Linked DNA regions of Homo sapiens. The protein of the gene in region 2 purifies or fractionates together with the protein of the main gene of each other region. This does not show direct contact. Each region holds a gene or a part of one and is shown on either strand. Other genes may lie near its edges.

The links.
Region 1: the proteins of MFSD2A (region 2) and NUCB2 fractionate together in Homo sapiens (co-fractionation; one large-scale study listed by BioGRID). This does not show direct contact.
Region 3: the proteins of MFSD2A (region 2) and TAOK1 purify together in Homo sapiens (affinity purification with mass spectrometry; one large-scale study listed by BioGRID and IntAct). This does not show direct contact.
Region 4: the proteins of MFSD2A (region 2) and GCN1 purify together in Homo sapiens (affinity purification with mass spectrometry; one large-scale study listed by BioGRID and IntAct). This does not show direct contact.
Region 5: the proteins of MFSD2A (region 2) and TSN purify together in Homo sapiens (affinity purification with mass spectrometry; one large-scale study listed by BioGRID and IntAct). This does not show direct contact.
Region 6: the proteins of MFSD2A (region 2) and ARFGEF1 purify together in Homo sapiens (affinity purification with mass spectrometry; one large-scale study listed by BioGRID and IntAct). This does not show direct contact.
Region 7: the proteins of MFSD2A (region 2) and LTN1 purify together in Homo sapiens (affinity purification with mass spectrometry; one large-scale study listed by BioGRID and IntAct). This does not show direct contact.

The regions. Positions count from the first base shown.
Region 1 is NC_000011.10:17,275,565-17,279,538, forward strand, and holds the start of NUCB2 (nucleobindin-2 isoform 1 preproprotein), read left to right. Parts: upstream 1-1,174; 5' UTR 1,175-1,264; exon of another isoform or gene 1,265-1,288; intron 1,289-1,458; exon of another isoform or gene 1,459-1,733; intron 1,734-3,974. UniProt on the Homo sapiens protein: Calcium-binding protein which may have a role in calcium homeostasis. Acts as a non-receptor guanine nucleotide exchange factor which binds to and activates guanine nucleotide-binding protein (G-protein) alpha subunit GNAI3.
Region 2 is NC_000001.11:39,953,672-39,957,944, reverse strand, and holds the start of MFSD2A (sodium-dependent lysophosphatidylcholine symporter 1), read right to left. Parts: upstream 2,801-4,273; 5' UTR 2,653-2,800; coding exon 2,560-2,652; intron 859-2,559; coding exon 724-858; intron 1-723. UniProt on the Homo sapiens protein: Sodium-dependent lysophosphatidylcholine (LPC) symporter, which plays an essential role for blood-brain barrier formation and function. Specifically expressed in endothelium of the blood-brain barrier of micro-vessels and transports LPC into the brain.
Region 3 is NC_000017.11:29,393,363-29,396,862, forward strand, and holds part of TAOK1 (serine/threonine-protein kinase TAO1), read left to right. Parts: intron 1-3,500. UniProt on the Homo sapiens protein: Serine/threonine-protein kinase involved in various processes such as p38/MAPK14 stress-activated MAPK cascade, DNA damage response and regulation of cytoskeleton stability. Phosphorylates MAP2K3, MAP2K6 and MARK2.
Region 4 is NC_000012.12:120,184,716-120,188,215, reverse strand, and holds part of GCN1 (stalled ribosome sensor GCN1), read left to right. Parts: intron 1-3,328; coding exon 3,329-3,392; intron 3,393-3,500. UniProt on the Homo sapiens protein: Ribosome collision sensor that plays a key role in the RNF14-RNF25 translation quality control pathway, a pathway that takes place when a ribosome has stalled during translation, and which promotes ubiquitination and degradation of translation factors on stalled ribosomes.
Region 5 is NC_000002.12:121,754,155-121,758,450, forward strand, and holds the start of TSN (translin), read left to right. Parts: upstream 1-1,496; 5' UTR 1,497-1,625; coding exon 1,626-1,691; exon of another isoform or gene 1,692-1,799; intron 1,800-3,085; coding exon 3,086-3,179; intron 3,180-4,296. UniProt on the Homo sapiens protein: DNA-binding protein that specifically recognizes consensus sequences at the breakpoint junctions in chromosomal translocations, mostly involving immunoglobulin (Ig)/T-cell receptor gene segments.
Region 6 is NC_000008.11:67,225,282-67,228,781, reverse strand, and holds part of ARFGEF1 (brefeldin A-inhibited guanine nucleotide-exchange protein 1), read left to right. Parts: intron 1-517; coding exon 518-558; intron 559-649; coding exon 650-819; intron 820-1,183; coding exon 1,184-1,335; intron 1,336-1,472; coding exon 1,473-1,645; intron 1,646-2,598; coding exon 2,599-2,759; intron 2,760-3,500. UniProt on the Homo sapiens protein: Promotes guanine-nucleotide exchange on ARF1 and ARF3. Promotes the activation of ARF1/ARF3 through replacement of GDP with GTP. Involved in vesicular trafficking.
Region 7 is NC_000021.9:28,954,878-28,958,377, reverse strand, and holds part of LTN1 (E3 ubiquitin-protein ligase listerin), read left to right. Parts: intron 1-901; coding exon 902-1,046; intron 1,047-1,429; coding exon 1,430-1,616; intron 1,617-3,500.

The DNA.
Region 1 (3,974 bases), on a different chromosome or scaffold from region 2:
ATGTGGCAGATTCTGTACTGTGTGTTTTTGTTTGTTTGTTTTTTTGAGACAGGGTCTCACTCTGTGGCACAATGATCATGGTTCACTGCAGCCTCGGCCTTCTGAGCTCAAGTGATCCTCCCGCCTCTGCCTCCGCCTCCTGAGTAGCTGGGACTACAGATGTGCGACACAGCACCTGGCAAATTTTTAAGTATTTTCTTCAGACTGAAACATCATTGTGTTAAAGATAAAAAAGTAAAAAATATTCTTGTAGAGATAGGATCTCACTGTTGTCCAGATTGGTCTCAAATTTTTGAGCTCAAGCCATCCTCCTGCCTTGGCCTCCCAAAGTGCTGGCATTACAGGGTGAGTCACCATGCCTAGTCTGTACTGTTTTCCTGGCAATGTTATCTCATTCAATCTTCGTGAATAACCCTAAGGTAGATATGATACCAATTTTTCAGGTGAAAAAAACTAATCGGCAGGATGAAACTTCGTAAACAGCCTGTGGCTCCAAAAGCTTCTGGAAGGCTCAAGCTACCCATGTGCATCTTTGAGCCTCAGTTTCCCCATCTTTAAAATGAGGGGTTTGGAATAGATGTCTGTTCTCTGGGGCAGGATGCAGAGGAAAGAGCTGTCTGCGAATGGGCAAGAGAGAAGGTGGGTAAATACAGTTAAACCACAGTGACCGAGGGCCCAGCACAACGGGGGTGGGTGCGGTTACAAATGCCGTTAAGATTCCCGCCAAGGCGGAGGACGGGGGTGTCAGAGCCGAGCGAGGCCTGTGGGCGAGAATAGGCCTGACAGCCATTCTCCGACCTGCGTGGGCGCTGCAGGCGCAGGCCAGAGGCCAAGGGAGAGGCGATCCCTGGGGCTCTGCCCGGGTCTCAGGACGGCACCTCACCCGCCCGAGTCCTGCTCCACAGGATTCTCCGGGTAAGCTAGGGAAGGAAGAGGCGCGGCCTCCTGAGCCCGCATCTCAGAGCGCCACGTCCCTCCTGGCTCAGCCTCCCACCAGGCTCCACAGCTTCGGCCCTCCTCACCGCCCGCCTCCAGGCTCCCCGGCGCGGCCTTGTCCCTGCTCCCGCCAATCGGCGTCGTCAGCAATCGCGAACCGGACCAATCAGCGGCCGCAGAGTGTGGGAACTGTCGCCATGGCAGCCAGGAGGCGGGCGCGCGCGGCGGGAGGAGGGGCAGAGCGGAGCGGTGGGCCGGGGGCTGGAGGACAGGTTTGTGCGCTGGACGCAAGCACCAGGCGCAGCCTCGCTCGCCGAGACCCGGCCAGGTAAGGCCGGTGGCCGCGCGGTAGGTGCGGAGCAGCGCGGCGGGAGATTAGGGGTGGGGGAGTCCGGAGATAAGGCTCCGGTCTTCGCCTGCCTTGCCAGAGCAGAGAGGATGGTGGGGGCCGTGCTGTGGGCGGGGCACCGGCGGGGAGGGGGCTCCCAGCGCGAGCCGGAGGCGCTGGGTTCCCTCTGCTCCACTCGCAGCTGGGCACCCGAGCTTTCTTCGGGGTCGAGGAGGGTGGCTGGCTCTTGGCGGGGAGCAGGAGAGGGTAGGTGCCAAACCGAGACCCTGGCGGGGTCCCTTCGGGTTTGGGCAGGTCGATGGGCAAGGGGGTGCCCACTAGTGAGGAGGGACACCCACCAATTCCAGGCGATGCTCCCCTGTGCCGCTCAGCAAAGCTAGGCCCGGGGATCCTGCTCTTCTCCGGTCTGGTTAAGCCAGCAACCTCTGACACTTAGGAGAAAGTTAGTGTAAGTCGTGATATGCTTTTCACTTAAGTGACAAATTAGGTACGAGATGAACCCTTTTGGTTTTAGGAGATGAGAAACAGTATTTCCTTGTTGCACCTGCTAAGTGGCAACTCAGTGAGCAAATATGGTTATTGTGGTTGGTGTTTGCAACGGTCTTAGATGACAGTTATTTTACAGTATCAAATGGCTGGGAGAGGGAGGGAAAGAAGGAGAGAGAGAGAGAGAATATGAGGGAATGAGAATGAACGGGAACCATTATGATTTTTGAGAGACAGAACCTCTTGAAATTCTATGTCTGCTAAACTTCTAAATTGAATAATGTACATTTTATGCAATTGAATAAGCTAGTGCTACCATTTAAGCCTGCTACTAAGGCTCTGTTAAATCCGTGGACGAATATGAACACTAAAAGATATTACCTTGGTTTAAAAATAGGGGAGGTTAAATGCAAATATTTCTGATAGTGAATTTTGTTTGAGGGAGATTGTGGACTTTCCCTATGGGAAAGTTAAAGAATTGATGAGATAGATGCTTTAAGGAATGTTTTTGTTTTTTGAAACTTGAATAAGTTCAACAAATGTTGAACAAATATTTCAACAAATCTTCTTCAGCTAATAGGGTCAAAAATTAAAATTCTGGAAATTTAGAATTAGAAATGAAATCTCAAATAATGTCACTCTCCTAATTAGGATGAACATGGAAACTTCTATTTCTCATCGTGGTCTTCAAGCTTTCCATGATCTCATCTACCTTTGTAGTAGGGGGTCAAATTTTTTTTTTAACTAGACAATTTTAGAAACTTAAAGGAGGCAAAAATTTATTTCTGTCTCCGTGTGTTTACTCATGCTCTTCTCTATCCAAATTTTACCCATCTTTTTTTTTTTTTTTTTTTTTTTGAGATGGAGTCTCACTCTGTCACCCAGGCTGGAGTGCAATGGCCCGATCTCAGCTCACTGCAGCCTCCGCCTCCCGGGTTCAAGGGATTCTCCTACCTCAGCCCATCGAGTAGCTGGGATTACAGGGACCCACCACCACAGCCAGCTAATTTTTTGTATTTTTATTAGAGACGAAGTTTCACCATGTTGGCCAGGCTGGTCTCGAACTCCTGACCTCAGGTGATCCACTTGCCTTGGCCTCCCAAAGTGCTGAGATTACAGGTGTGAGCCACCGTGCCTGGACGACCCATGTTCTAAGAGTCGAATCTGTCTATGTTGTGTTTACCTTTCTTTGCTCTCCCAAGGTACATATTGTTCATATCACGTATTTTGTATATATTCTTTCAGCATGCTTTTTGCCAAGTTGGTTTGCGCTCTGTGAATAACAGTTGAGATAAAATGCACAATTAAGACAATTAAGGTACTTTTCAAGACACAACTAATTATGGGCACTAATATCAATAACATCAATTCAGATGTCTTTTTTGTTTTGGGATATGTTATTAATCTCTGAACACATACTAAACTAATTTTGCATTACTTAGAATAATATGTAAATTACTTTCCACTTTCTAAGGACCCTTTTGAAGGCTGGGTTCTACAAAATACCCTTTTGAGTACTGGGTAGCTGGCAGAAGCAAGTGCAGGATTTAAAAATGTATTGAAAATAATCCTTTAGGCCGGGCATGGTGGCTAATGCCTGTAATCCCAGCACTTTGGGAGGCTGAGGCGGGTGGATCACTTGAGTCCAGGAGTTCAAGACCAGCCTGGCCAACATGGTGAAACCCCGTCTTTACTAAAAATACAAAAATTAGCCAGACGTAGTGGCGGGCATCTGTAATCTCAACTACTCAGGAGGCTGGAGCAGGGGAATCGCTTGAACCTGGAGGCGGAGGTTGCAGTGAGCCGAGATCGCGCTATTGCACTCCAGCCTGGGCAACTAGAGTGAAACTACGTCTCAAAAACAAAACAAAAAACAGGCTACTAACAATTTCAAATAATTTATTCAAGGAAAAACTTCAATCACTTTCATTATTTCCAATCAAAAATTTTTTTTACAACCATGATGTGGTGAAAAGTATACTTAGTTAGAATTTCATGGCCAGATTCCAGTACGGGCTCTGCCAAACGAACTTGGCCAAGTCAGTTAACTTCCTTCTGTATTTATAACCTTTTATAAAAGTAGGGCTGAATTAGATTACAGTAGTCCTCCTTTATCCTAGAGGGATATGTTCCAAGGGTCCCAATGGATGCCTGAAACTACAGGTAGTACCAACCCTTATATACGCTATGTTTTTTGCTATAC
Region 2 (4,273 bases):
GAAGTTTTTTGTTCCTTCTGGAGTTCAGTGTTCCCCCTCTGTAAATGGATACAACTAAGATGCGATGCTTGCCAAGTTAGATGCTACACAGAGAAGACAGCTGGTGCAGGAGCCCCGGTAGTCATGGCTATTCTGCCTCCCACTCTCCCATCCAGACAGGGTGAATTCTCAGGATGCCAGGCTTCTGGCCAAGGCTTCTCAATGCACAGAATAGTCCTGTTTCACCCTAAGTACCCCTCCCAGTCAAAGACCCTGTGTACTGGGGCATTCTAACTTAGCCTGGCACCTAAGTGCCCTTCTGCTCCTCAGGTAAAGGTGGGATGCATCTCATCCACAAGCCTGGCAACAGCCACCAACCCCTGAGTCAAGCCAGCTGACTATCTCCCAGCCAGGAACACAGTGTGCCAGTCTCTTCTAAGAACAGCATCCCCAGCAGGCCCCATTCTCCCTCATTCTACCGCCTACCCCTTCAGGCTCTGTTGCTCATGCCAGGCAAGGAGGAGTTGCCAGACCTTTCCAGCAAAGACTCCTGGAGTGGAGACACTCCTTTACTGGATACTTTCCAGGGTCTTCTCATTTCTTGCTCACTGACTCAGAGGCAGCAAAGTAGTGATTTGGGGTCCCATTTCACAGATGGGGAAAACTGAGCGAACTGACCCAGGGGTGCATAGTCTTTCCCACCTCAGGATGCTGAAGGAGCCCTCGAAGGCTTAGACCACTCACCTGAGCCACATCCAATAGGTAGATCTGAAGGAAGAAACCCAGGGCACAGCCCGTCACCTGGTAGGGGGCTCCCCCAAGTGCATAGCAAAGCTTGTTGCAAACAGACAACTGTTGTTTCTTCTTTTTCGGTTCTTTCTGGGAAGAGGAGGAAAAGATGAAAGGCCCAAGGTTCTGGCCTCCATCCAAGAAGGTTCCACAGGAAGGACCATCCCTCTGGCCAGCTCTACCAGAACAAACAACTCTGCTTTGACCTGTTCCTATCCAGGAGATCCCACCTTTTTTTTTTTTTTTTTTTTTTTTTTTTTTGAGACAGAGTCTTGCTCTGTTGCCCAGGCTGGAGTGCAGTGGTGCCATCTCGGCTCACTGCAAGCTCCGCCTCCTGGGTTCACGCCATTCTCCTGCCTCAGCCTCCCAAGTAGCTGGGACTACAGGCACCCACTACCACACCCAGCTAATTTTTTGTATTTTAAGTAGAGACGGGGTTTCACCATGTTAGCCAGCATGGTCTCGATCTCCGAGATCCCACTTTATACAAAAGAAAGGTGTTCTCCATTCTTAGGAACATGGAAAAGGGGAATCCATACTTGTGTGAAAGTAGCCCCTAAGCCACCTCCCTCCTGGAGATTCTAAGGAAACTTATCAGCCCACCATCCCTAAAGAACTCCTCCCAAGGCCTCAGGCACTGCTCCTTTCCAGGTTTCAGGGGGAGCATGCTCCAGCAGCCGACCTGTCCCCACCCGGCACCAGCTGCCACAACCTGAAAATCCGCTTGCTGCCAAGAGCTGCCTGAGCCCAGCCCAGGCTCCCACCCTGCCTCAGAGACAGGATCCACCTGCCTACTCCTGGTGAGAGCTCTAGAGAGCTACGGGGGCCCGGCCCAGCTGGCTGCAGGCGCAGCTGTTCCACCTATCCCAGAGCATCCCTGACCACTATAGGCAGCCAGAGCTTCAGGCGGACCCAGGAACTGTCCTACTCTCCAGCTTCCCGACCCATCGCCCTCCACCCCTGAGCTCCTAGAGGACCTTGGAGACGGGAGGAAAGGCCTCCAGGTTCAGGCCTGATCCCTCTCCGGGTGGGGCACTAGGGAGGTTGGGTTGCCCAGGGAAAGTAGATATTACTCATACATAGTAACAGCATAATTGCTCACCCAGCTCCTTCCAAAGATCAGTTAATAAAATTAAAAGGAAAAGGCAGTCACCTCCCACGAAGGTATCTATTGCCTGAGATCCTTTCCTAGGGGGCCGCCTCATTTTATTTGGTCCTTCAATAAGTCCCCAGGGCTGGGGATGTGGTCGATGGTCTCGATGCGCAAAGCACCGTTCCCGCGCGAACATCCACATTCAGACAAATGCCTGAGGGACGCGGCTCCTTTAAGAGCAGAGCTCTTGTTCTTATGAATGAACTTGAGCGGCCCTAACAGCAGAGTTGAGGCGCAAGAGTAGGTGGGTGGAGTGGGAGGTAGGGGATGAGAGATGGGGAACCAAGGGGAGTTTCCCAGATTTCTGGGGTCATCTCTGGGGTTTGGGGCGGCAAGCCCCAGCCGCTCAACACGGAAGAATGGAAACCGGCTAGGCAGAGCGGGGAATCACATGGGGCTGCCGGCAGAGCCTCTCCGCAGAGCGTGGAGTGCGGGTGAGCAAAGGGGGGCGAGGGCGCCCACAGCTTTTCTCCGTCACCCCCTGTCCCAGGGCACCCCCAGGTCCTCTCTGGCTCGTAGGCTTCCTGTCCCTGGCTATCCCAATGGTCCCCTGACCAGGCCGACCCCGGGACGCCCCTGATCCCCCATTTCCGCCTCCTCCCTCCCCTCGCCCTCCACGCGGGGTGCCGGGCCCTCACCTTCACCTGGGCCGGGCGTTCAGTGCTTTGGAGGATGCTGGTGGGTAGCAGCCCCGCCGCGGAGCCGCTCTCGGCGCCTTCTCCTTTGGCCATGACCCGCGGGCCACGCCGCTTGGGACCTGGTAGACGGGATGCTCCTCTGCCCCGCAGGCCGCTGCTCCTCCCAAGCTCGCTTCGTAGCAGCCTTAGCCACGGCCGCCGCGCGCTAGCCAAGCCGGCTGGCAGACGAGGAACGCACTCTGCTGCACGCCCCCTCCGCGCCTCTTATAGTTCTGCCCAGCCCTCTCGGTTGCGGCCAATCCCCGAGCCCCGCTGCCCCGCCTCCAGCCAATCCCGTCGCCCGCCTCCCTGCCCCCGCCTCGCCCGGCGGCTCTGTGCCACCGAGCCACGTTCTCCAAGCCCCGGAACCGGCATCTGCCTGCGCTGGCTCCTAGCAATCCGAGAAGCAGGCCGCGAGACCTCCCAGACACGCGCGAGGAAACCGAGGCCCCAGGCTGAAAGTGATCTGCCCGGGGTCCCCGATCTGCCCGAGGTCCCCGAGGTCCCCAAGGTCCGACTCTCCCCGAGTCGGGCCTACCACCCATGACTTCTGAGCCCCAGGCCTAGGAAAGGTAGGGGCTCTGAAGCCCACTTTAAAATCTGGAGTCAGGGCCTCTCTCCTTCTTCAAGCCTAGAGGACGTACGCTGACACTTTCCCTCCTGATGCCTCTCTCTCATCCCCGAAGACACACCATTCCCCCGTCCTGCCCTTGGCATCCGGGCAATGGGGAGAAAGATGAGGCAATCCAGTGGCTGCCCCTGCCAGAAGGGAGCTCCCAAGTCGTGGAGAGAAGCCGGGGCTACGCCCGCTAGTACACTATGACAACAGTGGCCTTTTTATGGATAGCTTCCTCCATGCTTAATATGATCTCTTTCGGCCCTCAAAAACCACCAAGTGAGGGTGGTACTATTATTATCCCCATTTTACAGCACAGGAAGGGGAAACTTGGAGAAGTGAAGCAACTGTTATGTAGCAGAGCCAGGCCTGAAAGGTTTTGTCCGATACCAAAGCAGTTGCTCTCAACAGCCCTGCTCTATCCCTCTTAGCATAAATTACAGACGGCAGAATGGGGTGTATGTGTCTCCCAACAAGAAGCCCTGGGAGATACATGGCTCCAGAGGCACTGAGGGTTGAAACAGGGAAAGTTTTGAAAAAGAGAATGCCCAGAAATGTGGTCCTCAAAAGAAGATGGGAGGGCATTAGTTTGGAACAGAAGGCAGGCACGGATGCCAGAAAAGAACAGTCTTTAGTTCCACCTCTGAGTCCCTTATGTCAATGTCACCCCGGTCTTTCCAGTTCTCTGATTAGTGAAGGGGCTGCTGGAACTCTCAAAGGCTACCCACCCGGTTCCTGTGCTCCTTAATGTCAGCCTCCTTCTTCCTTTCTTTAAATCTCTGATTGCAGGGAGGAGAGATAAGGTCTATCTGCCCCAGGATGGTCACACCATGCTCCCTCATACGCCAGCAGATCCCATCTGGGCACACAGCTCTTGGCCATTGCTGAGCAGAAGAGAGCCAAAGTGAGGCACTGAATACTGTGGAAAGGGAATGGCTGGCCCCATTACTCCAAGCTGTGTGACACTGTTCTGTCTCTTTTCCCCTCTCCAGGCTTGGTTAGCTAAGCTCCCTTGCAGCCCCCAAATCTTCTCTCCCACAGTCACACCATACCACAAGT
Region 3 (3,500 bases), on a different chromosome or scaffold from region 2:
TAACTAAGGACAACTGAAAAAAAAACAACTCTCTTTTTTCATAGCTGGTAGGAATGTTGCCTAAAAGTGGAAAAGTATGTTCATGATCAATTAGATAAATACATTATTAAGGAAAAATTGCCTGAGGGTTATTTCAGATGACCTCTGATGCCACTGTCAGAAAGAAAATGCTGAGAGCTGTTAGTCTGAGTTGATTCTAGATTAGTATGGCACTTCTTATGTTTCTAAATAGTTCATCTACAAAATGGCAGTGTACATCACTTCCTGTTCTTTCACAACTGGCTCTTTCACTGGATTCTCTTTTAATGACTTAATTTTTGGCATTCTGATATCTGATTTGTTAATTTGGTTATAATTCTCATGTTTTATAGGTGGAAGAATTTCTGAGAATCAGCTGGATTTAAAGGCTTTTAATAGTTTAAGATTATCTTGACAGTAACAAAACATTGCTTCCAAACTAAAGGATAGTATTGCAAACAAATTTAAACTCTGAGAGGTTTTAAAGAAGTACAGCAATGTACAGAATCAGAAGTATGAGGGCACTGAATAGAAAATAATTATCGTATTTTTTATAATGTCGATTTTGGGAGAAGTGAGGATATGGCAAGTAATTGAATGGGTGTTGATATAAAATAAACTTTCTGTATAACAAGGTGTATACATGATATTTGGGCCCATGTTACGATGCCATTTTAACAGTAAGAAAGCAACTCTTTAGTTACAGGATACTAGAAAGACTGGATGCTCATAACTAACCATGAGTATGATTTATTTTAATAATTTGCCAGTTTTTTTTTTTTTTTTTTTTTTTTTTTTTTTTTGAGACGGAGTCTTGCTCTGTCGCCCAGGCTGGAGTGCAGTGGCACGATCTCGGCTCACTGCAAGTTCCACCTCCTGGGTTTACGCCAGTCTCCTGCCTCAGCCTCCTGAGTAGCTGGGACTACAGGCGCCTGCCACCAAGCCCAGCTAATTTTTTGTATTTTTAGTAGAGACGGGGTTTCACTGTGTTAGCCAGGATGGTCTCGATCTCCTGACCTTGTGATCTGCCCGCCTCAGCCTCCCAGAGTGCTGGGATTACAGGCTTGAGCCACCGTGCCCGGCAAATTTGCCAGTTCTTAATAGACATGAATATTTAGTAAATCCAGAAGATATCTAGGGGTCAGTTGTTGGCATTGAAATTAGAGTTGAGATCAATCTGTCTTTCGTGTCTTTCACCTGGAAATAAAGTCTGTGTTTTGCATTTGGCTTATTTGTATATTAAAATCACTTAATTTTTCATTTGTATCTCTGTTTTGTTTTCACTAGTCTCTGTTACTTATAACAATTAATTGCACTCATACTAATTTAATCTTTTAGAAATGAGGAGCATTTTTGGTACATATTAGTTGAGGGTTGCTGTTTGGATGAGGATCATATGTGAACGAATCCCTTCAAAAAAGTGTTATTTCTGGGCTGGGCAAAGTGGCTCAGGCCTGTAATGCCAGCGCTTTGGGAGGCTGAGGTGGGAGGATTGCTTGAGGCCAGGAGTTCAAGAGCAGCCTGGGCAACATAGCATGACCCTGTCTCTACAAAAACAAATTTTTTTTTTAATTAGCATGGGCTAGGCATGGTGGTTTATGCCTATAATCCCAGCATGCTGGGGGCTGAGGCTGGAGGATCACTTGAGCCTAGGAGTTTGAGGCCAGCCTGGGCAACATAGTGAGACCCTGTCTCCAAAAGATAAAAAATGAAAATATTAGTGGGGCGTGATGGTGCGTGCTTGTTCTAACTACCTGGCAGGCTGAGGTGGGAGGATTGCTTGAGCCCAGAAGATGGAGGCTGCAGTGAGTTGTGATCATGCCACCGCACTCTAGCCTGGGTGACAGAGTGAGACTGTCTAAAAACAAAAGCCTGTGTGGTGGCTCAAGCCTGTAATTCCAGCACTTTGGGAGGCCAAGGTGGGCGGATCACCTGAGGTCAAGAGTTCGAAACCAGCCTGGCCAACAAAGAGAGACCCTGTCTCTACAAAAATAAAACAAATTAGCTAGGCATGGTGGTGGGTGCCTGTAACCCCAGCTACTGGGGAGGCTGAGGCAGGAGAATCACTTGAACCCAGGAGGTGGAGGTTACAGTGAGTTGAGATGGCGCCACTGCCTGACAGCCTGGGCGGCAGAACAAGACTCCATCTCAAAACAAAACGAAACAAATAAAAAAGTTTTATTTCTCTAGTAAAGTTTCGCATAAAATTGAGATGTTCATTAAGCAGAGTACCAACATATGCTCACCTGCCTTTAGGTATGTGTACTTTTTTTTTTTTTTTTTTTTTTGAATTTGAGACAGGGTTTTTGCTGTGTCGCCCAGGTTGGAATGCAATAGCGTGATCACAGCGTATTGCAGCCTCAGCCTCCCGGGTTCAAGTGCTCTTCCCACATCAACCTCCCAAGTAGCTGGCACTACAGGTACATGCCACCACGTCTGGCTAATTTTTTTTTTTTTTTTTTTTTTTTGTAGAGATGGGGTTTTGCCATGTTGCCCAGGCTGGTCTTGAACTCCTCAGCTCCAGCTATCTACCTGCCTTGGCCTCCCAAAGTGCTGAGATTACAGACATGAGCCACTGCACCCGGCCCGATTTCCGTACTTACTATTAATGGTTGGATTTTAAAAATTATTCTTCAGGTTTTCCTATTATAAAATATGAGAGGATACAACCTGTATTAGTTCATTCCATTCTTAAAGTATTTTAGTTTTTAGTAATAAAAATTGATGTTTAATTTCATTAAAGATGTCTCATACCTTCTAAAAATCTACATGAATTAAAAAGTTGTGTGGAGGGACTAGCAGCAATTATTTTCAGCTGGGACGTTTCTGTCATCATATGGTAACAGTTATTTCTGTATCAGTCTATTTGTGCCAGAAGCAGACTTTTTGTTCTAAAATACAGTCTAAGGCTATACCTTTTTGATGACAAAATTAAGTATCCTATAAAAGTTGGAAGAGTTTTTAAAATGTTAAGTACCTGGCATGTAAATAAAGTAAGTAAAAGTATAAATTATTAAGTGCCTTGCATAATAGATATACTGCAGCCTCCTAAAAATGCCAGTGACCGTTATGCTGTAGGTTGTTATTTAAATATAATGGCACTTAATTACCGTCTAATTTATCTTTAAAGCTGAGAAGGGGCTAATTTTTCCTTTTGATAAAATTATTTGATCAAATAGTTTTATGCAGGTTTAGAAGTAGATGAATTACTGTAACATTTAGAAAGACATTCAAAGTTTAGTTTCTGAGAAATATTATCAAATAATAGGATGGAACAAAACTTTCTGGTTTGCAGCTACCAATAATAAAATTGGCACTTACTATATATTAATGTTGGCTGGGCGTGGTGGCTCACGCCTGTAATCCTAGCACTTTGGGAGACCGTAGATCACTTTAGGTCAGGAGTTCAAGACCAGCCTGGCCAATGTGGAGGAAACCCGTCTCTACTAAAAATACAAAAAATTAGCTGGGCGTGGTGGCGT
Region 4 (3,500 bases), on a different chromosome or scaffold from region 2:
GTTATCCGCCTGCCTTGGCCTCCCAAAGTGCTGGGATTACAGGCGTCAGCCACCATGCCCAGCCTAGAGGTCATGTTTTTGATGTCCTCTTGGAATATTCGCAACAAGGTGTTTTCACTTTATTAAGCTTCCTTGGATTCAGTGTTTTCTTTGAACCTCTTTTTTGCTGAAAATCTGTTGAGGGTCTGGGGAACACATTTTGGGAAATGCTGAGCATATCTGATTATCCTGATCTGCACCATAACCAAGGGATAGCTCTATGACTTATTAGAGTAAGACCATTTTGCCTTCACTCAATAAATTCTAGTTTTTTGTTTTTTTTTTTTTTCATTTCTTTTGGTATGTTTGTTTTTACCGTATAGCATTGGCTCTCAAAGTGTGGTCCCTGGACAGGCAGCATCAGCATCATCTTGGAACTTGTTAGAGATAAAAATTCTCAGCTCCATTGGAGCAACTCAAATCGGAAATCCTGGAGGTGCTGTAGCCCCAGCTACTTGGGAGGTTGAGAGGTGGGAGGATCGCTTGAGCCCAGGAGGTTGAGGCTGCAGTGGTCCATGATTGTGCTACTGCTTTCCAGCCTGGGTGACAGAGTGAGACCCTGTGTCAAAAAAAAAAGTTTGGGCACAGAACCCAGCATTTGTGTTTTAACGAGTCCTTTAGGTGATTCCTATGTTTACTAAAGTTTGAAAACCATGGCCATGGCTGGGCTTGGTGGCTCACACCTGGAATCCCAGCACTTTAGGAGGCCGAGGAGGATGGATCACCTGAGGTCAGGAGTTCAAGACCAGCCTGGCCAACATGGTGAAACCCCGTGTCAACTAAAAATACAAAAAAATTAGCTGGGTGTGGTGGTGGGCACCTGTAATCCCAGCTACTTTGGGAGGCAGAGGCAGGAGAATCGCTTGAACCTGGGAGGCGGAGGTTGCAGTGAGCTGAGATTGCGCCATTGCACTCCAGCCTGGGTAACAAGAACGAAACTCTGTCTCAAAAAAAAAAAAAAAAGAAAATCATGGCCATATAGATTGGGTCTCCCTTTCTGTCCACTTTTACTTCCTATTTCTACCACTTCACCCAACTTCTCATTTGCTGCTTCTGACCTGCTTATGCCTAGTAAGATACCCAAGCTTGTAAACTTGCTATTTGTGAGCGTCTCAGAGAGTCTCTTGTGTGTTAATGCTTCAATGTATGAGTTTTATGGCATCCTCGACGGTTTTTCTGGTCACTTTCCCAGCAGAGCCCTCTAGTTAGAAAAGGCAGCCATGTGATACCGATCTTTCCAGTCACAGGCCTCTAGTGCAGCAGTCAGTGATGAAGGGCTCAGATGGGCTGTGCCACTTACAGGCTGTGTGACCTGCTTCAAGTTACTTCACCTCTCTGAGCCTGTTTCTTTGCTTTGAACATGGAGATAGCAGTAGTACTTCCCTGATAGGTTGGAGTAAATGTAACGCATTGTCTGGGTATGGTAAGCTCACAGTGTGTGTTAGCTGTTATTGTCATTGTCTTAGCCACAACCTGTTTCTGGCCCCAGTCATTCTTTTTCCCCAGTTACTGAAATAGCCCCAAATCACATGGACCAATGCAGTGGTCAGGGCCCTGGGGAAACTGCGTCCCTGTACCTCATTCATTTCTCTTCCATCATTCAGGTGCCTGAAGTGTGAGGAATGGTATGGGCCTCCTGCTCTCAGGTTCTTCCTACACCCAGTATAAGTCTGTCTTACACTGCAGGTTAAATTTCCTCCTCCTCAGAAGCTCCTCCCTTTTGTTTGCGTGCTTCACTGTGTCATGCAGCACTTGTCACAGGTTGGCTTTCCAACATTATTGAGCACTCTTTTTTTTTTTTTGAGATGGAGTCTCGCTCTGTCTCCTGGGCTGGAGTGCAGTGGCGCCATCTCTGCTCACTGCAACCTCCACTTTCTGGGTTCAAGCGATTCTCTTTGCAGCCTCAATCTCCCAGGCTTAGGTGATCCTCCCACCTTAGCCTCCTGAGTAACTGGGATTACAGACACGTGCCACCATGCCCAGGTAATTTTTGTATTTTTAGGAGAGACGGGGTTTCACCGTGTTGGCCAGGCTGGTCTTGAACTCCTGACCTGACCTCAAGTTATCCTCCCACCTTGGCCTCCCAAAGTGCTGGGATTACAGGCGTGAGCCACTGCCCCCAGCCATATTGAGCACTCTTGTTCAACCAAGAGTTGAACTCTTTCTGCCCAGAGTTAGAGTGTATCTGTTTCACTCCAGAGTTAGGGTGTATCTGTTTCACTCTGACTGGCTGGCTTGGTTTCCCATTACTTGGTTTCTTCATTTAAAAATGGGCTTAATCCGGGTGCGATGGCTCACGCCTGTAATCCTAGCACTTTGGGAGGCTGAGGCAGGTGGATCACAAGGTCACAAGTTTGAGACCAGCATGGCCAACGTGGTGAAACCCTGTCTCTACTAAAAATACAAAAATTAACTGGGCGTGGTGGTGCGCACCTTTAGTCTCAGCTACTCATGTGGCTGAGGCAGGAGAATCACTTGAACCTGGGAGGCGGAGGTTGCGGTGAGCCGAGATCGCACTACTGCACTCCAGCCGGGGCGATAGAGTGAGACTCCGTCTGAAAAATAAAAGGCGGGGGGGCCTTAATAACACTGCCCACCTTACATGGATTAAATGAGTGAATGTGTATGAATGATCTAGAGCAGGGTCTGGCATCTTGTAAGCACTAAGAGCTAGGGTGTTATTAGTCCTCTCTTCTTCTTCATGTGTTCTGAATAGGTATTATGCCTTCTTAACCCTGCACTCTACATGTATCTCCCTCTCTTTCCATTTTTCCAGAGCCTACTAATCTGATAGGCCAAGCTTATGTGTCCTTCAGACTTTCAGAAACACTCCAGTTATAGGTGTTCTTCCCTTTTCTGGTCCCTCATAGTACTTCAGTGTTGCACTGTTTTTTAAACCGTTTATTAGAATGTATGTGAAGAAAGGTACGCCTCCTAATGGAACAGCTCACTGAATCATCACATGTTAAACACCAGTATAACCAGCACCCAGATCAAGAAGTAGAACCATTCCAGCACTCCTGAACCTCCTCTTGATGGCATGTGAGGTTTCGAGGCCACTTTTATTTTCTTAGTTTCGTTCATTTAGCAAATGTCTACCCAAAGCTTTTCTGTACCAGGCATTTTCCTAGAGTCCTGTTTTGTTGTTGCTTTTTCCTCTTGGGGAGGAAGGTCTTAAATATATGGGGAGTGTCCAGTGGGCTGAGATCATGTCTGGGCAGAATACCTGACTCCAGCGGCTTACCAAGTGATTTTTATTGACCGCTGTCTGTGTAATCTCTGGTTTCAGATCTTCCAGAGGGAGCAGTGAAGGGGCTCTGCAAATTGTTCTGCTTGACTCTGCATCGATATAGGTGAGTCCCAGCCAAAGGCCCCATATGTGGAGCACTTTGTACAGAGAGGGGATTTAGAGTAGTGGTTAGAGCCCAGATTAGAGCCAGACTGCCTGGTGCCAAATCTGG
Region 5 (4,296 bases), on a different chromosome or scaffold from region 2:
GTGGTTGATACCTGTAATCCCAGCATTTTGAAAGGCTGAGGCAGGAGGATTTCTTGAGCCCAGGAGTTCAAGACCCGACTGGGCAACGTAATGAGACCAAAAAATGAAACAGAACAAAACAACAATAACGAAAACCACACAAGAAAAGAAAGAAACAAAAAACCAGTTAGTGGCTTGTGTGCCTAACTCTAGGTAAAACGGAGAGGTGACGAAAGTTTGTATGAGAACAAATAGGATTCTTTAGGACAGACGAATGGGTTTTGGGAGAACAAACACGAGATAAGAAAGGGTTTTTTATTTTTTTTGAGACGGAGTCTGTTGCCCAGGCTATAGTGCAGTGGTGTGATCTCGGCTAACTGCAACCTGTGCCTCCCGGGTTCAAGCGATTCTTCTGCCTCAGTCTCCCGAGTTGCCGGGATTACAGGCGCGCGCCACCACGCCCGGCTAGTTTTTGTATCTTTAGTAGAGACGGAGTTTCACCATGTTGGTCAGGCTGGTCTCGAACTCCTGACTTTGTGATCTGCCCGCCTTGGCCTCCCAAAGTGTTGGGATTACAGGTGTGAGCCACTGCGCCCGGCCGATAGTTTTTTAAAAATGTAGGTGCTAGTGGTCTTACTGTCTTCTTCATGGACATGAAATTATTCTCATATAATGAGAATTAAATATGATCCTTCATGTAAAGAGTTTAGAATAATGTCAGAAACAAAGCAAGCAATAAATTATCATTTAGTTGATAAGAATCATTCCAATTCATCTGGCGAGTGCAACACACACACACACTGTATTTGTGTATGGAATAACTGTTCAAGAACACACACACAGTATGTGTGTATGAAATAACTCTTCAAGAACAAAGGGGAAACCGTTATAGGGCATGAAAGGGGAAACCGTTATAGGGCATGGAAGGGGAATTAGGACAAGGTGTGAGTGGAAAGAGAAACATCCCACCGCACACGCTTAAAAAAGCCGTTTAATTTAAAAATAGGTAATACAGCCATACAGAGAAGACATTAAAAGATCTACACAGAAAATTTTCGCTCCCAATCCATTCCCTACTCACAGTCCTACATACGTTACTTTTATTTTCCTTTTTTTTGGAAATGCACTGGCCCCCTACTCTCTCACGAAGGCTGAACTCTCTCTACATTCTTCTGCACCTGTTTTTTGTGCATACTCTTTCGTTGTCAAATATTTCCCTCCAACTGTTGTTGTGTATGAAATAAATACACACATATAAGCTAACCAGCCCCACTTGCCCGCACCACCTACACGCCCGTCCCCGCCCTCCCTCAGGCCCACGTGCTCCGAGGGCCGCCTTCGCAGGTTGTTTCTGGCGATGCCTGTCTGAAGGCCTCAGACTGAGGCCCCGCCCACTCTCCCTCTCCTCTGCCCTTTGGACGCGCGCCTCGGTTCCGAACGCAGCGGACGGCGCCTCAGGCAGCGCGGCGGACAGCCCGTCCTCCGGCGCGCCGCGAGCCTCGGAGGACCCTAGCGACGGTCGTGGCGTAAGACCGGGGGGACGCGGCGGTAGCGGCGGCCGTTGCGATTGATTGCGCTGGTTGCCTGCGGCGTCCACTTCCTTGGCCGCCCTTGCTACACTGGCTGATTGTTGTGCAGCCGGCGCCATGTCTGTGAGCGAGATCTTCGTGGAGCTGCAGGGCTTTTTGGCTGCCGAGCAGGACATCCGAGAGGCGAGCCCCCTCCCTTCCCCATTCCCTTTGCCTTTCCATGCCTAGTTGGGCCACTTCGCCCGGCCCTCCTCTGTCGCTCAGTCTCGGGCGGTGGGGACGCCTCCGAGGGTGGGTTGCTTCCCCTCTAGCTTTAGGTTAGGCACTCCCCGCCCCCGCCCAAAATTTTGCTGCTCTGTCCTGATTCCCCGTGTTCGAGTCTCAGCTTCTCAGCATCACTTGCCTCGTTTGTGTCAGTTTTCCTTCTTTTCAGCACTTGTTTATATCGAAGGCTCGATTAGCACCTGGTCTTCAGCGAATGAGCGTTTCGTGTATTTTTGTTGGTGTCTTAAAAGCACATGTGATCTGCTTAAAACTCTCCTGTGATTTCCTATGCCACACAGGATAAAAAATCAGACTCTACTGTGGCTCACATGGTTTCTCTTCAATCTCGTTTATGCTCTCTGTCTTTGTGTATGATGTTCACTTTACCTCTTCTAGTGCCCCAAATAGCTTCCTGCCTGTTTGCTTTTCCTGGAATTTGCTTCTTTCCCGTTCTTTTCCTGATTGTCTCGTATTTATCTCATTGGCGTCACAGTCTAAGCGATCTATTTCCTGTTATGTTTTCTAGTAGCACATTAACTTTTTTTAATGTGTGTAATATTGATTATTTTAAAAAAATCTTCTCCCTCATTGTATGTTAAACCGCCAGAGGGAAGGGATTGTGTGCTTGGTTCCCCGGTATTTACACAGTGCCTCGCACATAAGTATGCTCAGTGAATATTTTAAAAATGAATTAGAGGCGGGGAGCGGCGCCTCATGCCTGTAATTCCAGCATTTTGGGAGGCCGAGGCGGCCAGATCACCTGAGGTAAGGAGTTTGAGACCAGCCTGGCCAACATGGGGAAACCCTGTCTCTACTAAAAATATAAAAGAACATTAACTGGGCATGGTTGCGCACACCTGTAATCCCAGCTACTCGGGAGGCTGAAGCAGGAGAATGGCGTGAACCCGGGAGGCGGAGGTTGCGGTGAGCTGAGATCGCGCCACTGCACTCCAGCCTGGGTGACAGAGCGAGACTCCGTCTCAAAAAAAAAAAAAAAAAGAAAAAAGAATTAGAAATACCCGACTCTTGTGTTGCATTTAACTCTTCATTTTGCAAGTTGCGTTCACACACGTCATCCATTATAATGTCCCAATTGAATACTTGGGTTTAATGGGTGGCTATTATTCTTTAAAGGGTATCTGAGGAATCTAAGGCTTTTTAGTGACTTTTTGAAGTCTTACAGAGGAAATAAGTGGAAAAGTCAGGATTCAAACTTGGTTATGATAGATCACATAAGCTATCTAATGTGTTTTGTGTGAGTGTATGACAATGATTCTGTTGAGTATCTGATTTTTATTTTTAATTCTCTCTAGGAAATCAGAAAAGTTGTACAGAGTTTAGAACAAACAGCTCGAGAGATTTTAACTCTACTGCAAGGGGTCCATCAGGGTGCTGGGTTTCAGGACAGTAAGTTCTTTGTTTTGTATCCAATTATCAGTCTCTTATTTAGAGGGAGAGTTTCTATCCAGAAGACATTTTATAATGAAAAATGGCTATCATGCTTTATGGTGAGTAAAAATTGAAGAAGTAGGTGATTTGATAATTTTGGTTGATTTTTCTTCCACTTCCACACAGTATGGTTTAAACAGAGATGTTTTCTATTGCGAGGGCATTCTACTGATGATAATTACAATTGCTTAACCCATTTCCTGTTTAGAAAAAAAAAGTGCAGCTCTCTGCCAGCACAGTATTCTCAGGGTAAGCGGGAAAAGGGTTTATTATTATTTTTTTAATTTTTTTTTTTTCTGAGACGGAGTTTCACTCTTGTTGCCCAGGCTGGAGTGCAGTGGTGCCATCTCAGCTCACTGCAACCTCCGCCTCCTGGGTTCAAGCAATTCTCCTGCCTCAGCCTCCTGAGTAGCTGGTGTTACAGGTGCCCGCCATCACGCCCAGCTACTTTTTTTTTTTTTGGTATTTTTATTAGAGATGGGGTTTCACTTTGTTGGCCAGGCTGGTCTTGCACTCCTGACCTCAGATGATCCGCCTGGCTGGGCCTCTCAAAGTGCTGGGATTACAGGCGTGAGCCACTGCACCTGGCCCAAGGGTTTGTAACTCTTTTGTGTTATCTAGTGACTTTTATTTGGCCCTTTGTGTGTGTGTGTGTGTATGTGTGTATGTGTGTATATGCACCTGTGTGTATTTGAATCCAGCCTTTCAGTGATTGAATACCTTTTAATATGAGATTAACAGTATAAAATGTTCTCAAATTAATGTGTTTATAATCAGCCTCTTGAATGAAAATAAAATATGTCAAGTTTAGACATGGAACCTTCATTGTAAGGTATTGCCAGCACAGCTAAAGGAGCTGAAGTATATTTTCAGATACAAGAATGATATAATAATGCATTTACACGTGCCAGAGGCAAGTGATTTTTCTTAATGATACGGAGTTGGTCATCCTGATTGTGAATACTTGGTAAAGGCTTTTTTCTGCCAAATATGGGAGGAAGAAGCAATCCAATTTTAGGCATCCTCTGAGGAGTGAACAGGAATAGCAGCTGGTGTGCATCTCCTTAAGGATGAC
Region 6 (3,500 bases), on a different chromosome or scaffold from region 2:
CCTAAGGAAAGTGGTTTGGCCAATTCTTGGGTAAACTGAGACTATTTGCAAGGTTATATTAAGTCACTTTTAGTGTAAATGAACTTTCTAATCAAATATACTTTACTGGTAAAAATACGTCAAATTTTTCATTTTAAGAACTTGCTTAATGCTAGACAATAATCAGGAAAGAATCTGTAGTGTGCCAATTATTAGTTTTACAAATTAATATTTTTCTTATTCTTAGAATCTCATATCTATCCGGGGTTTGTAAATCTGATAAAATTACAGCAGTATATACTTACCCTAATAATAATATTGAATGTAAACTGGTTCACATGGAGTAGAGGTGGAGGGGAGGGAGAAACATCCAGACTACACTTGTTACTAAACTAAATGATGAAAAATACTCATTTGAATACCCAATTTTTTGTTCCCTTAAAACATAAAAATAGCTAGTACCCCATGCCACATACTTTTCAATTGGAATAAGAACAGTAACTTATAAATTTTTTAAATTGTGTTTTATTTTCCCTAGAATATTCACAGGATCTACAAGGCTAGATGGAAATGCCATTGGTAAGTATGGGCATTTATTCTACTTCGGAACTGGCTTGGGGCTAAAATAACTTTAATGTTGAGCTAAAAAAAAAATGTATTTATATTACAGTGGATTTTGTCCGTTGGCTCTGTGCTGTGTCTATGGATGAATTACTTTCCACGACACACCCAAGAATGTTTAGTCTACAAAAAATAGTAGAAATATCATATTACAACATGGGAAGAATAAGATTACAGTGGTCTCGAATTTGGGAAGTTATTGGAGATCATTTTAATAAGGTATTTGAATAACTATGGTGTTTGTTTACATTTGTAGTATATTTTTTGTTTAGAATGTCCTTGTAATCAAATTGAGCCTTTTTCCCTTCCAAGCAATTATTTATTACTTTTTAATATTAAATTAGAAAACCCTGTGAATGGTGTTTTTCTTTTTAGAAATGATTGCTCTGGGCTTTAAGAATTTGATTTAAAATATCTGTTTTTCTTGTTGAGAAATAGTTTTAGCATACTTAATGCCTTTATGGAAAATCTTAGGATTTACCTATCTATGCTATTCTATACTTTTTCTAAAACAAAAAATAAAGAATTGTAGATTTTTACTGCTGATATTAATTAGCATCGTTTATTTCTGTCGCCATTACAGGTTGGGTGTAATCCTAATGAAGATGTAGCTATTTTTGCAGTAGACTCCTTGAGGCAGTTGTCAATGAAGTTCTTAGAGAAAGGGGAGCTTGCTAACTTCAGATTCCAGAAGGATTTCTTAAGACCTTTTGAACATATAATGAAACGGAACAGGTACTATATTTGTTGAATTGCTTAATAGAAGGAAAATCTTGTTGTTTTCCACAGCAGGGAGAAAAACAGAAGAAAGGGGGAAAAACTGATGAGTTTTATCGGTTTGCATATCCAAGCAATTATATTAATATTTTTAGGTCTCCAACAATTCGAGATATGGTTGTACGGTGTATAGCACAGATGGTTAATTCTCAAGCTGCTAACATTCGATCTGGATGGAAGAACATTTTCTCTGTATTTCATCTAGCTGCATCTGATCAAGATGAAAGCATAGTGGAACTTGCATTCCAAACAACCGGGCACATTGTCAGTGAGTATTCTCTTAGCTGTGTTCAAGTAAAAGGAAAAAAAAAAAGCAACCTTAACGTGTTCAGAAGATGATTCAAGTAACAATAAGATTATGGCCTTTAAGTTTACCAAGCTTTGTCTACAGAACCAGAGTAAATAAAAACAATTAAATTACTATTATAGTTAACATTTATTGAGTATTTACCATATGGCAAATACTGTGTGCACTTTTCACGTAATTTCTTTAATCTTCACAGTTAAACATTATTGTCCATCCCTTTTTTCAAAATAGATTAGGAAACTCAGCCCCAGAAAGGTTAAGCAGTCTATGTAAGGTCACAGAACTAGTGATGGAGATGGTCTTGAGACCCATGGAGTATTAAAGCAAAGCCTTTATTTTTGACCAGTAAGTACATTGCACAGCCTTCTTCAAGGAGGAGTCCCCTTAAGTTCAAGGGGGACTGACTGAAATACTAAGATTATAAGTTAAGCCTATATGGAAGATGACAATGATGACCATCAACATCAAGAATCATGGCATCATCATAGCTATCATTTATTGCGTGCTTGCTTAAGTATTACACTAAGCACTTCACTTATATTATTTTACGTAGTGCTTACAGCTATCTGTGTATATTATTATTATTTCCATTTTATATCAAGAAACCGAGATACAGAGAGGTTAAGTAATTTTGTATATTCATTCAACCAAAGTTGAATCAGTACCTACCGTGTACCAGTCACTGTATTAGGTGCTATGTTTATAATGTAAACAAAACAGACAAGTTTTACTATTCTCACCACTCAGGGCAGTCAGTTAAGTGGTAAAGATAGTCTTGAACTTCGTATCTGTTGGATGTCAGAACCTGTAACAACCTTTAAGAGGAAGTGCATTACATCTAGATGTTGGTGTATTTTTGGTACAGCTAAGAATAATTGAAAAATTATAGTAATATATATTTTTCTCTATTTTAGCCCTTGTATTTGAAAAACACTTTCCAGCGACCATTGATTCTTTCCAGGATGCAGTGAAGTGTTTGTCTGAATTTGCGTGCAATGCAGCTTTCCCAGACACAAGTATGGAAGCAATTCGACTTATTCGCCATTGTGCAAAATATGTGTCTGATAGACCTCAGGTATAGCGTCATTTAGTAAACAAAATTTTGCAGAGTATTCTTTCCAATTTGAAATCTTAAGTTTGTTTGGGAATTGAGGGTATATGAAGCATTTATTTTTCAGTAATTTGAAAAATAATCTGAGCAGCCTGATTCCAAGTTAGGATGGTTAGTGATTATAACTAACCATTATTGAAAGTGTCAGGTATTTTTCTGAGTGTTTTTCATTAACTTGTATTAACTTGTTTAATCTTCTAATGGCTTTATGGGGTAGATAGTGTTATAGCCCCATACAGACAAAGAAACTGAGGCACAGAGAAATTTTAAAATGTGCCCATAGTTTCAGGGCTAGTAAAGTAGAACTAGGGTTTGAGCCCCAGCCTGTGTTTCTAACCATTCCCTACAGTGCATCTTGTCTGTCTGTGCTGTGTAATACTGAAGCTGACTGACTATGGATGAGAATAGGCTTAAGCTCTAAAGTAAAAGGTTGAATTGAAAATCTAGCTGCCATATTTAACTTGTATATTTGAATCTATCTTTGTAACTGTCATAAGAGAAAGTGATGTATCGTAGATTTGGTAATAAGATTTTATTCCGTACTACCATGGACCGATCAGGTGCTTGGTACTTTTTAGATACGTCAACTCATTTCACCTTCATACTTCACCAGTGTGGTTAATGTGGCTGTCTGGTATCATAACCATTTAAGTGATAAAAATGGAAACCTGAATTAACCTGGCTAATAATGCAGAAAGCTGGTGA
Region 7 (3,500 bases), on a different chromosome or scaffold from region 2:
TTTTGAGCTTGGTTTCAGTGTCTCTTTTATACTTGAACAGTGTCCTTAAATTAGATTCCATGATCAGTGTGAGTGCCTATGAAAAATGACTTGTAGGGCTCGTCCCTATAATCCCAGCTACTCAGTAGGCTGAGGTGGGAGGATCAGTTGAGACCTCCAGGAGTTTGAGACCAGCCTGAGCAACATAGTGAGATGCCATCTCTTAAAAAAAAGAGAAATGAAAAGTGACTTGTTAGGTAACAAATCTACAGGACTCTTATGAAAAGACCCAAACGAATTTTTCCAAAACCATTTTGTTTCAATGACCATCCATTTAAACTGCCAGTTAATTGAAGGATAATTTGCTATAACATACCTGCTGGACTCATAACTTATAGACAGTAAAGTGATGGTGATACTATCCTTTGTCATAGGCTGGTGTGCATTGTAGCCTCTCATGGTCACCACATGTACTGATTGTTCTTGGTTATTTATTTTTTGGGGACAGGTAGGCAGTGTTTTAAGATGTTGAATTGCAAGTATATTTTACCTCTCATACCTAAATCCATATAATAAAGGAGAAGAGAGAATGCATTTAGAGGATATTGGGTTTAGGTAAAATAGTGCTGCATTTCATAAGGTAGCTGTATTTCTGAAATACCTGGTCTGAAATAGGTCAGGTCCTCTTCATTCTGAGATAGATAGGAAGCAACACTAGATTTCAAATGATAAATATTGGATTACCTCCCCAGTTTGACTGTTATGTTGGTGTGTCATCGGTGGGGGAATGTCACTTACCTCTTTTTATTTTCATCATTTCTTTTTGTTCAGGTGAGCTATTATAGGGTATTTAATATGTATTGGGGTATTCAAACTAGTCATAGCGTAACTACAACAGTTAAGTTCTCTGCATTATTTTTAGTCTCCAAGTCCTCTTGTCTGCTGTTGATGATTTGCTAAATACACTTCTAGAGAGTGAAGATTCTTATCTTATGGGAGTTTATATTGGAAGTGTAATGCCGAACGACAGTGAATGGGAAAAGATGAGGCAGTCTCTTCCTATGCAGGTATTTTGGAAATTGAAGAGTACATATCTCATTCTGAAGTTTGGATTTCATGCAAGCTTGAATATTTTTATTTTGGGGAAGAAAAACATAAATAAAATGAGTATTTTGCTTTGCTTTGATGTCTTTGTATGCTCATATACTGGATGTTTGCTTTTTGCAAGACACCATTTGACAGTGGCAGTGGGCATGGTACAAAGACTTAGGACCTAGTTCTGTACTTAAGGAGTCTTAAAGAAATACACATGTTGATAATTTCCTGTAAAAGAAAACAAACTTCTAGGTTTCTGTGGTTTTGGTAATAAATATTCTCACAACTTCATTTTTGTTCAGTCTCAATTGCTTAGGTAATAAATAATTTTGTATATAACGTATTCTTTTCACAGTGGTTACATAGACCTCTTTTAGAGGGAAGATTGAGTTTGAATTATGAATGTTTCAAAACAGATTTTAAGGAACAGGACATAAAGACACTTCCCAGCCATTTGTGTACTTCAGCATTATTGAGCAAAATGGTCTTAATTGCACTGAGAAAGGAAACAGTCTTAGAAAATAATGAGCTTGAGAAAATAAGTAAGTATATATGAGTATTTACATATAACATAATGCATGAATGAATATAATTTTGAAATAATCTTGATTATACTGCAGTTTAAATCTTTAATTCAAGAATCTTCAGCTTTCTTTTTCCTATTTTAATGATGAGAACCTTGAAGTTACTTAAGTGGTGAATGTGAAATTGCAAATTAGATACGAATATATTGGAATCTTGCTATAATCTTGTTAACTGTGGATCGTAATTTGGTGTTAGCTACTCAGGCTGTCATGACATCAATGTAAACAGATCCTGTGGCACATACCCTAAAGAAAATGGGTGAGGCTTTGGTGTTTTATCAAGGATTCAGAATTTTCTGTTGATTAAAAAAAAATTGATACCTGATAATTTTACATATTTATGGGGTACATGTGATATTTTGATATATACATAGAATGTGTAGTGATCAAATCAGGCTAAGCAGGATATCCATCACCTCAAACATTTATCATTTCTTTGTGTTGAGAACATTTCAAATCTTCTAGTTATTTTGCAATATAAATCATTGTTAACTATGGTCATCCTACTGTGTTATTGAATACTAGGTCATATATCTTCTCTCTCACTGTATTTTGGTACCCATTCACCGACCTCTCTTCATCCCCTGCTCTCCCTGACCCTTCTCAGGGTAACCATCAGTCTACTATACTATTCTATCTTCATGAGATCCACTTTTTTAGCTCCCATATACAAATTAGAACATGTGATGTTTGTCTTTCCGTGCATGGTTTATTTCATTTAGCATGATGATGTCCAGTTTCATCCATGTTGCTGCAAATGACAGTATTTCATTCCTTTTTTTTTTTTTTTTTTTTTTGAGACAGAGTCTCGCTCTGTTGCCCAGGCTTGAGTGCAGTGGCGCAATCTCGGCTCACCACAACCTCTGCTTCCCAGGTTCAAGTGATTCTCCTGCCTCAACCTCCCAAGTAGATGGGACTACAGGCGCACACCACCATGCCCAGCTAATTTTTGTATTTTTGGTAGAGACGGGGTTTCACTATGTTGGCCAGGCTGGTCTTGAACTCCTGACCTCGTGATCCGCCCGTCTCAGCCTCCCAAAGTGCTGGGATTATAGAAGTGAGCTACCGTGCCTGGCCTCATTCTTTTTTTAATGGCTGAATAGTATTCCATTGTGCATATGTACCACATTTTATATATCCATTCATTCACTGATGGACACTTAGGTTGATTTCATATCTCAGCTATTGTGAATAGTGCTGCAGCAAATATAGGGGTGCAGATATACCTTTGATATACTGGTTTTCTAAATATTCAATGGGATTGCTGGATTGTGTGATAGTTCTATTTTTAGTTTTTTGAAATACTTCCATATCGTTTTCCAAAATGGCTGTACTAATTTGCATTCCTACCAATAGTATATAAGTTCCTATTTCTCTGCATTCTTGCCAGCATTTGTTATTTTTTGTCTTTGTTTTTTTAGAGATGGGGTGTTACTATGTTGCCCAGACAGGTCTTTATCCTGGGCTCAAGCAATCCTCTTGCCTCAGCCTCCCAAAGTGCTGCGATTACAAGCAGTGCCACCATTCCCAGCTTATTTCTTACCTTTTTGACAAGAGGCATTCTAACTGGGGTTTTGATTTGCATTTCCCTGATGATTACTAATATTGAGCATGGGATTTTTTTTTCCTTTCTTGCCGTTGAGTTGTTTGAGTTCCTTATATATTCCTTATGTTAGCCCCTTGTTGGATGAATAGTTTGCAAATATTTTCTCCCATTCTACAGATTGTCTCTTCACTTTGTTGATTGTTTCTTTTGCTGTGCAGAAAGCTTTTAGTTTAACATAGTCCTATTTGCCTGTTTTTGTTGCCTTCGCTTTTGAAGTCTTAGCCATAAAAATATTT